Regions from separate parts of the Homo sapiens genome. Here region 2 is linked to region 1. Evidence: fine-mapped expression QTL. A gene starts in region 1. The other region holds a variant in brackets. All regions are shown on one strand. Distances are from middle to middle. Region 1 holds the start of CCP110 (centriolar coiled-coil protein 110). Region 2 overlaps TMC5 (transmembrane channel like 5).

Region 1 (5,381 bases):
AGTAGAAGTCCGAGCTCTCGGGAGGACCGAGGGGCGCGAACGTGGGGGTCTCACCTGCCGAATGGCCGCCAGCGTGTTCTCGGGCGCGTCGTGGCTGCCGCCACGGTGGGCGATGGCAGAAATGCGGTCCCGGGGCTTGAGCACCTGCAGGGCCCTGCAAGAGGGCACCGGCTCAAAGCTGAAGACGCGCAGTAGAACGAAGAGGCTGCCGGTGAGGAGGCAGGCATTGACCGGGCTCCGCGTCACCAGCAGCAGCACTAGCAGCAGGAAGGAGAAAGGGCCCAGGAGGCCGCCCTGGTCCTCCCACAGCCACATGCCGGCGCCCGCACCGGCACGGACGGGAGTCCCGGACCCGCCGGGCTCCTGGGGCAGTAGAACGAGAAGCGAGGGGGAGGGTCCAAGGCACCGGCAGCAGCAGGAACCCTCTGAGGGGACCAGCGCCGCACAATGGCGGCAGCAGACACATCCAGAGAGGGAGTCGGCCGCCCAGCCAATCAGGGATCGGGATTCGCAGCGCCAGTGGGCGGAGCCGCTCCATGGCAACGGGGGAGGGCCCAGGCCCCAGGCCCCAGGCTCACGTTCCAAATCTAAGGTGGGTTAGGGTTTTCCGAGGTCTGAACTTCAACCTGGGCGTTCAGACTCCTAGGCGAGAAAAGGAGGGATAAGAACCATCCTAAAGCTGTAGGACTGGAAGGGATTTTAGTGACTCCTTTATCTGCCCTTGAGGAAACTGAATTCCAGGGAACCTGGAGAGGCAGGATGCTTAGACTATCAATTCAATTCAATTCAATTCAGTTCAGTTCAGTTCAATTCAAGATGTGCCAAATACCGGTCCAGGTGCTCCGGACACAGTTGAACAGGACCTACAGGGTTTTTGCTCTTATGGGATTCACATTCTTGTGGGAGGAAATAAAAGTTAGCAAGTACACCTAACGTTTACAGAGCACTTACCATGTCCCAGGTACTTGACGAGCAAACACTTTATATGCTTATCTCATTCTCAATACAGCCTAACAGTTACTATCAGGAGACTGATTTCAATCGACTTTATTTTCCAGATTCTGGGGGACTGGAAGAGCCTAGCAAAGAAGGCACAATCGGATTATAAAACTGGAAGGGGTTTTAAGGATTCCCTTATTTCATAGATGCGGAAACTGAGGATAGGTGAATTAAGCAGTTAATGGCAGGGTGGGGACTGACATAAAGGCCTCCCCAGTGATTTGTGACATTTTCACTCCTCCTCCCCCTAATCTTACTTCTGCTAAGGGCTTTTGTACCAGGCACTGTACAGGAGTTACCTCAACTGTGCCTCACAACCACCCTTGTGATAGGCACTTTTAAAACCCCCATTTTACATATGCAAAAACAGGCACTGGAAGGAGGGTAAGAGAGATAGACCATGAAGCCGAGTTAGGGAGTGAAAAGGGGCCCCTGGACATATTTTGGAGGGCTGGTAACATTTTTATGTAGAGAACTTTGCAAAAATATTCAGGGATTTTTCTGTTACCTTTTTTTCCTTTAGTGCATTTTCCCACTGATTTGCAAAAGGGGATAGATGTCTTAAGCCTTCCAGTTGGCATCTAGGATTCAGCCTTTTTTTTTTTTTCTTTCAGACAGTCTCACTCTATCGCCCAGGTTGGAATGCAGTGGTGCAATCATGGCTCACTGCAACGTCGACCTCCTGGGCTCAAGCGATCTTCCGACCTCAGCCTCCCGAGTAGCTGGGATCACAGGCTCGCGCCACCCCACCCGGCTAACGTTTAAAATTTTTGTAGAGATGCCGTCTCCCTTTGTTGCCCAGGCTGATCTCGAACTCCTGGGCTCAAGCGATCCTTCCGCCTCGGCTTCCAAAATGTTGGAATTATAGGCGTAAGCCATCACGCCCGGTGGGTTCAGCAAGTTTTTACCTACAAGAAAATATTTTGGTGAATGTTACATGTTTTCTAACGGCTGCATAGAAAGGGGTTATCTTTATACAGATAAGAAAAAAATGGCAACTTCAAGGAACACTTCAGGGGGCTTCAGACCCTGAGGGGTGTTCCTATTCTACTAAATAAGTAAATTTATTAATAAATTCTAGTCTCTAGCTTGCAAGGAAGACTACGTTTCCCGGCGTGCAGCGTGCTGGCCGTAAGCATTACGTCCTCCATCGCGGGCGCGCAATGCACCTCGGGGATGGTAGTGTTCTGGTGGCCCAACGGTTTTAACAGCCCGGGAATCAACCACCGGAAGTGCCGGCCCTGAGAGGTGGAGTCGGGGTGGCAGCGGCGGCGGTTGCCAGGAGCCCGCGTTGCAGCCTGAGATCCGTAATATGGCGGGGAGGAGGAGGAGAAGGCGGCGGCGGACCGAGCTGCGCTCTGTCAGTACCATTTGAGCCATTCGCTTCCTGACAAGGCCCGTGGCGAGGGGAGAGGAGCTGAAGGGGCCGTGGGGGATCAGGTGTGTGCATGAGGAGGGGGCTTGAGCCTTGACGGGTCCGGGCTGAGAGGTGGTCTGGCGAGGCGAAATTGGCGCCCTGAGAAGCTGAGGGCGGGCTCTGTGCTGGGCTCCCGGGCCTCGAGCCCCCTGGAAAGGCGCCGGCTGTTGGGAGGCGGGACCCCGGGGGCAGCCAGCACCGGGCGCTGAGGTGATGCTCCGATGCTGGCCCCGCCTGGAGGGCCCTCGGTTTGGAGTCTTAAATCGGAGGAGCTGGAGGAGGTGGGCATGGGGCGCTGGGGAGAGGGCAGGGGGCCGTCCCTGGTGAATAAAACTCGGGCCAGAGCCGGAGAACCCCATCGTGGTGATCAAATTGTTTGGGCCGTTTTTCTTCTCCCTCCCACGGTGCTGGAGAGGGAGGCTTCCCCGGGGTGTGCATTGGCCATTTATGAGCCCCTGTTTCCACAACCAAGGCCCTAGGAGCGCTGCTTACTTCGCCTTTGCCACTCTGGGGCATAAACTTGAGGATAATAAAGTAATCGATTGCCCCTGGAGCTGCTAGATGGTTCCCACCCTTTGATTCTATTCTGGTTACGATCCAAGCTCCCTACCCCCAGTTTAGGCAAATGGCAGCCATCTCGAGATTGATTTGACGGGGAGAGGTCTAGGGACAGGGAAATGAGGAAGCCGTTGTCCCCTTTTCTATATTTTTCAGTTTCATTTGAAACCTACGGGGAACCAAGCACTGTCGCTGCCCTCCAGGAATTCATACTCTACTGCTAAAAATCGTCATCATCATTATCCTCTTAATAAGAAAAGCAGTCCCCATTATTTGTTGCTTTCTGCGTGTTCTGCACTACGTTAATTGCCCTACATGCATTAGCTCATTGAATTCTTACAACATTCCTTTGAGACGGATACCGTGATCATCCCTCTTTTACAGAGGACGAAACAGGTGTGGGGATGGTAACTGGCTTGCCAAGAACTTGCAGCTAGTACGCATCTGAATAAGAAATCTTCCCCTTTACCGCTTTTACAAGAAGTTTGCGTCTTTGGCGGAACTGATGGGCAAAGAAACACTAGGTTCTGCAAAAAAAAAGCAGGATCTGTTCTGTGTTACTTTTACCACTCTTTTCAGTGACATGTCTGGCAGAGCACGGGTAAGGAGCAGATAGGACCATGAGTCTACGGGGTTTGCAAAGAGGCTCATTTGCACAAGGGTCAGTGGTTCTCTGTGGTATAAATGGAGAAGACGGCATGTCTGAACCTGCTGTAGCTGACAAATTATTACTGGAAGTGGACCAGTGATGCCTGATGGCAAGATATAGAGCAGTAGATTTGTGGCTGGGGTAGCCTTGTAGTCAGGGCTCCCTTAAAATAAAACCTTGCTGACAGTGGTAATTGTAGTGTGAAAGGCATAGTGTCCTCTTGCTTAATCATGGGATACAGACTGCTCACTTCTTAAATGGTTACCTTTGCAGTTTAAGAGGTACCAGTTTCTCTGGGACTAGAGCCATGGTGAAATTTCCATTCTCTAAATTCCACTCTTCCTTGCTAGCTTCGGTGTATAGTCCGCCTTCTTTTTTTCTTCTGGTTTACATTATTGTTTGAGCTTATTATTATTCTTATTCATTTATTCAATACTTTTATCAAGTGCCTGCTGTGTGCTGATACTGTTCTGTGTAATGGGGATTCAGTGAACAAGACTGAAAAGGTACCTGTACTTATGGCGCTTACATTTTGGTGGAGGAAGACAGACAAAAATCAAGGAAATAAACACGATAATTTCAGATAGTGGTAAGTGCTATGAAAATTGGGAAACAGCAGGGTAATGTGATAGTGATAGAGGCAGAGTTCATTTAGATGGGGTCATCAGGGATGCCTTCTCTGAGGAGGGGATATCCAAGCCGAGACTGAAGAATAAGAAGGATCCAGTCATGCTCTAAGGATCATCTAGTAATTTGTATAATCTCCATATTAGCACTCATATTTGAATGAGTAATGCGTTGTCATATGCTGTGTTGTGCTGTAATAATAATATAGTACTATACATCTGCAAGATATAGGACATATATGTACTATTTAAGGGATGTGAATAACTTTCTGAAACAATGAGGCATAGCTCTATGATGTTGAAAGAAAAATAAAACTATGGCCATAAAAGTATTATATTTCCTTAATAATTTCCCTCACTTCTAAAATTGAATTTCATGCTTTGCTTGAGTATCCATAGAAGATATATTACTTTATTTGTATAATCTATTTACATTCTGTGTATTGCTGAATGCATGGCATGATTAAAAAAATAAAATATTTGAGCAGAAATGGGGTTAAGAAATAATGTGAGTTGAAACCTAGACCTAAAAAAAGGCTATGCCTTAAGGTGTTTTATTGTTTTTACTTTTGCTTTTTTAAAATAAATAAAAGCTTGTAAAATAGTCTCACTCACACTGTAGAGAACCATTTGTTTGTCATTAGATTCCTACTTTGCATAGATTGAACACAAATAATTACAATTGATTGAATAGTAGGAAGAAGTTTTGTTATTGATTAAACTATTTAGAAAAAATAGCATTATATCTTATTTTTTTATAACCTGATTATAATTTTGACTATTTTTTTTTTCCCATTTCTCATTGCACTATAATTTGTCCCTGATACTTTGGTGTACTGAATTTTTAAGTACTTTGAGGCCTACCGAGGACATATCCTATTTCATCTTTGCATATCCCACATCATGAATTGAATTTCCCTGCCCTCTCTTTTTTTGTTAAGAAGCTAATTATTTTAAAATGAAGACATAAAGGAACATGATTGTATTCTATTTTCTGTTTCCATAGTTCATACCCTTGCTGGTTATGATTCTGATAATGTCTTTTTATTTTCCCTTGCTTATTTAAAGGAAACAGTGCCACACATAATGCTGTGCAAATAAGCAATCAACATTTACTGTTTGCTAAATGAAT
Region 2 (5,381 bases), 75 kb before region 1:
ACAACTCCAAAAATCCAGAGTCGTACAATAAACAAGCATTTTCTTCTTACGGGTCTGCAAGGTTGGTTGGCATTTGGCTGAACTACGCTGAGTTTGTTGTGCTTGGCTCTACGTCATGGGTTCTATTTAGTTCTAGTGTCCCTCTTCTTGGACCAGTGAGTGACCTAGGGCAATGTCTTCCCATGCCGTAAGCTGAAAGTGCTCAAAATGGCAAGCAGAAACACACGGTATCTTTAAAAGCCTTGGCTTGGAACTGGCACACTGTCACTTCTGTCATATTCCATTGTTCAAAGCAAGTCACACGACTAAGCCCAATATCAATGGAGGTAGTCAAGGTAGGGGAAATGTAATATTTGCTGAATAACAATTAATCTACTATAACAGTTAATATATATTAGAGTTTAATATGTTCGAGGATTATTTAATCATTTCACATGTGTTCACTGATTCAATTCCCACAACAATCCTATGTGAAGGTCCTATTATTATCCCTATTTATTTATTTATTTTTCAGACAAAATGCCCGCTCTTTAGTGCAGGCTGGAGTGCAGTGGTGCAATCTCAGCTCACTGCAGCCTTTACCTCCTGAGTGGCTGGGACTACAGGCACACTACTACCATGCCCAGCCAATTTTTTTATTTTTTGTAGAGACAGGGTTATGCCATGTTGCCCAAGCTGGTCTCAAACTCCTGTGCTCAAGCGACTGTCCCACTTTGGCCTCCCAAAGTGCCGAAATTACAGGCATACACCACCACACCTAGCCTGTTATCCCTATTTTAGAGACTAAGATATTGAAGCTCAGAGATGCTAAGACACACACCCAGGGGGCGCACAACTAGGAAGTAACAGGGCTGGGAGTTGATTCCCAGGCAAGAAGCTCCAGAAGGTCTTGCAATGTAATTTTGCATATTGTCCCCATTAAAATGTGCTCCATTTTCTCCATTTCTCCCAGCTAATTGGGAGGCTGAGGCTGGAGAATCACTTGAACCCGGGAGGCAGAGGTTGCAGTGAGCCGAGATTGCGTCACTGCACTCCAGCCTGTGTGACAGAGCAAGTCTCAAAAAAAAAAAAAAAAAAGAGTGGACTAGAGTAAGGCTATGTTAGAGTGCAGTTTATATAGTCAAACAAAGTATTATTTTGTAAAACTTGCTTTTCAGTTCTATATGTATAGGTGTGTCCTGGATCTCAGTGCAACCATTATTTACACACACACGCACACACACACACACACACACACTTTTTTACTGGGCTCCATGACTCAAGCCTGTAATCCCAACCCTTTGAGAGGCCAAGGCTGGCAGATTGTTTGAGCCGCCCAGAAGTTCGAGACCAGCCTGGATAACATGGTGAAACCCCCTCTCTACAAAAAATACAAAATATTAGCCAGGCATGGTGGTGCATGCTTGTAGTCCCAGCTACTCAGGAGGCTGAGATGGAAGGATTGCTTGAGCCTGGGAGGTCAAAGCTGCAGTGAGCTGAAATCGCACCACTGCACTCCAGCCTAGGTGACAGAGTGAGAACCTGTCTTAAAATATATATTAATATATATATTTAATGTAATTTTTTATATTATATTTTATATTAAAATATATATTTATAGATAATATATATATTTTAATATATTATATTTATTTTTATATTATATAACATATAAAATATAGATTACATGTAACATATAAAAATAAATATATTAGAAATACAAAAAATATATAAAATATATAGTATAAAATATATATTTATTTTTATATCATGTAGTTTATATGTATTTTTTTCTTTTTTTTTTTTTTTTGAGTCAGAGTCTCGCTCTGTTGCCCAAGCTGGTGTGCAGTGGCGCGATCTCGGCTCACTGCAAGCTCCACCTCCTGGGTTCATGCCATTCTGCCCCAGCCTCCCGAGTAGCTGGGACTACAGGCGCCCGCCACTACACCCGGCTAATTTTTTTGTATTTTTTTAGTAGGGACGGGGTTAGCCAGGATGGTCTCGATCTCCTGACCTCGTGATCCACCTGTCTCGGCCTCCCAAAGTGCTGGGATTACAGGCGTGAGCCACTGTGCCCGGCCACATATACATATATTTTTAGAGACAGGGTCTCATTATGTTGCCCAGGATGGTCTTGAACTTTTGGGCTCAAGTAATCCTCCCACCATGGCTTCCCAAAGCACTGGGATTACAGGCGTGAGCTACCTCACCTTGCCAACAATTATTTTTAACTATGGCTTAGTCAAATGAAAAACCATTGATCTAGGCTGATTATATTTAACAGCACTGTTTTTGTATTTTTGTCCTAGTTTCCACCCAAGTTCTTAATCAGTAGTCTGTTAGAACCTCAAAGACCAGGTCTCAGTCTTATTAGCCGTTACGAACCACTATTAGCACATCATAACTATTGCATGCCAGGAATGTCTAGTGTGGTGAGACTAATCGGCAAT[A/G]TCTCCTTCCTCTTCCCTCCAGTGAACCCTGCTTATGTAGGTGAAAGTGGTCCTGTCCATGCTTATGGAAACCCACCATTGTCTGAATGTGATTGGCACAAGTCACCCCAAGGTAAGTGATATGGTTTGGCTCTGTGTCCCCACCCAACTCTCATTTCAAATTGTAATCCCCATGTGTCGGGGGAGAGACCTGGTGGGAGGTGATTGGATCATGGGGGTGGTTTCCCCCATGCTGTTCTCATGATATTGAGGGAGTTCCCTTGAAATCTGATGGTTTAAAAGTGACAGCTTCCCCTGCACCCACTCTCTCTCCTGCCCCCATGTAAGATGTGCCCTTCTTTCCCCTATGCCTTCCACCACGTTTGTAAGTTTCCTGAGAAATGCCCCCCAGCCATGAGGAACTGTAAGACAATTAAACCTCTTTTGTCTATAAATTATGCAGTCTCAGGCAGTATTTTTATAGCAGTGTGAAAACAGACTAATACAGTAAGACTTAAAGGACAGTGACCAAAAAGTCAACCCTGGAGAAGGAACATGTCCAAGACAATCCACCCATTGCCATTTCCTTTGACCTCCAGTGTGGTTACTGATGCAGAACCTGCTTAACATATCATAATGGAGTTTTCTTTTAGATGTATAGTTTGTTGTCTTCTGGGGATCAGGGTGTCTTCATTAGGAATCTTCTGGTTGCAAGTGACAGAAACCCAACTCAAACAGGCATTAGCCCAGGGGGAATTCATTGGCTCATGTGGTAGAAGCGTATGGGGGAAACTTAAAGAAATGAAAGTAGAAGTATTAGTACCTTCCAGCACCTAGTACAGTGCCTGGCACGTAGTAGGTATTTTAGGGATATTTGTTAGATTAATTTGTTGAATGAGTACAGAAATCAGGACCTCAGTCTGAGGTCAGGGAACTCAATGTCACCTGGACTCTGGTTTCCCATCCATTTCTCATCTTTGTAAAACTTGCTTTTCAGTTCTGTATGTATAGGTATGTCCTGGATCCTCAGCACCTCTTTAAGTTAGACCTCATTCATCTCCGTCAGAGTCAGGACTTGTCCACAGGCCAGAGAACACGGCCAATAGCAGGCCCACGTGAGCCCTCTGCTTAGCCACCTCATTAGGAAGTCTTGCTTCCTCCCTGGGTCCATCTCTAATGCGGGGGAAGGACTCTGGCCAGTCTAACTGGAGCACATGCCTACACTTGAGCCAATCATTTTTACCACAAGGGACAAGACTGGGTCACCTGTCTATTCTGTGGCTAATGCCTGTGTTGGTGGGGACAAGATGCATTGATCAAAGTTTTTGTGAATATTCATATAATTATTATGATAATGGAGTGTGGAAGCAGTCAGACTGGTGAAAGATAGAAGGCGCTGCAATCAGTTAGGAAGCTCTCTAAGGATCACTGTGTGTGGTGATGAAGGTTGAATCAGAGGCAGAGACTGAAAAATAAAAAGGAAGCAACAAGCCAGGCACGGGGGTTATGCCTGTAATCCCAACACTTTGGGAGACCGAGGCGGTAGGATTGCTTGAGCCTGGGAGGTTGAGGCTGCAGTGAGCTGTGATCACGCCATTGCAGTCTAGCCTAGGTGACAGAGTGAGACCCTGTCTCAAAATCAAACAAACAAAAACAAAAAATGAAGCAACAGAGGAGAGAGACTAGACTAGGGAGTGCTGGAGCCACAAGGCAAATCTGTGAGCAACAAGGAATAAAGTAATGAGGTCCTCTATACAATGATGCGTGTGGAGAGAAGCCACTTAGAACTCTCACCTTTCAGCCCCATCGCCTATAAGATAACCGTTAGCCTCATCCTTCAAGAGATGTATGCCTTTTCAGGGAGGGTTAGATATTGCTACTTGGAAGGGAAAACCGTTGGGATATAAATGATCACACTGTCTATTTGGTCCCCACTGGGGCACAGAATGGCTTTAATTATCAGGGAGAATAAATATGTTTAAATGTTATGACTGCTCTGTCTTGCCAGCATGAGGTTTGGAGACTGTATAGAAAAAAACACACTCAGAGTGTTTTTTCTGTTCTCTTACTCAACAACCATCAACACAGAAGGCTTCTGTGAACAAATGGGTGGGGGTTTCTCCCCACACACCAAGAAAGCGATCAATTTTACAGCAGACATCGCTGGGTATCCTCCAATTCAATTCTGACACTATCTACCTGGAGATAGTGTCAGATCCCATAGGACAAAGGCGCAGTCCCCAAGACTATATACCTCCTTCAGACCCCAGCCACATGTCCAGGCCGCCGGAACTTTTTCTTTTTATTATTATTATTATTTTTAAGGATCTCACTCCGTTATTCAGGCTGGAGTGCAGTGGCACCATCTCAGCTCACTGCAACATCCGCCTCCCAGGTTCAAGCGATTCTTGTGCCTCAGCCTCCTGAGTAGCTGGCATTACAGGCATGCGCCACCACACCCAGCTCATTTTTGTATTTTTAGTAGAGACGGGGTTTCGGCATTTTGGCCAGGCTGGTCTCAAACTCCTGACCTCAACTGATCTGCCCACCTCGGCTTCCCAAAGTGCTGGGATTACAGGCATGAGCCACCGCACCCAGCCCCAGAACTTCTGACCAACCAGCTTCAAGTTGGGGTTCCCACGACCTCCTCCTTTGGTTTGGTTAATTTGCTGGAGCAGCTCACAGAACTTCGGGAAACTTATGTTTACTGGCTTATTACAAAGAATATTACAAGGGACATAGATGAAGAGATGCATTAGGTGAGGTATAGGGGAAGGGACACAGAGCTTCCATGCCCTCCCTGGGTGAGCCACCCTCCAGGAACCTCCCCGTCTTCAGCTATCAGAAAGCTACCTGAACCCAGTCCTCTTGGGCCTTTTATTGGGAGGCTTCATTACATAGACATGATTGACAAGCATGTAGAAATGAGACTGGATGGCCGGGCATGGTGGCTCTCACCTGCAATCCCAGCAC

The links.
Region 2: its variant is fine-mapped to the expression of CCP110 in whole blood (INTERVAL, PIP 0.95).

What each region holds. Positions count from the first base shown.
Region 1 is chr16:19,521,650-19,527,030 of GRCh38, forward strand. It overlaps CCP110 (centriolar coiled-coil protein 110), which reads left to right and starts at 2,293. Exons shown (of 14, transcript NM_001323572.2): 1 at 2,293-2,439. GDE1 (glycerophosphodiester phosphodiesterase 1) reads right to left here and starts at 449. Exons shown (of 6, transcript NM_016641.4): 1 at 55-449. The coding sequence starts at 315. RefSeq lists enhancers at 1-650, 1-130 and a silencer at 241-410.
Region 2 is chr16:19,447,091-19,452,471 of GRCh38, forward strand. TMC5 (transmembrane channel like 5) reads left to right here. Exons shown (of 22, transcript NM_001261841.2): 5 at 2,452-2,541. Among named protein-coding and RNA genes, the nearest start is that of TMC5, 32 kb to the left of the region's middle. The variant A/G (reference allele first, on the strand shown) is at 2,430.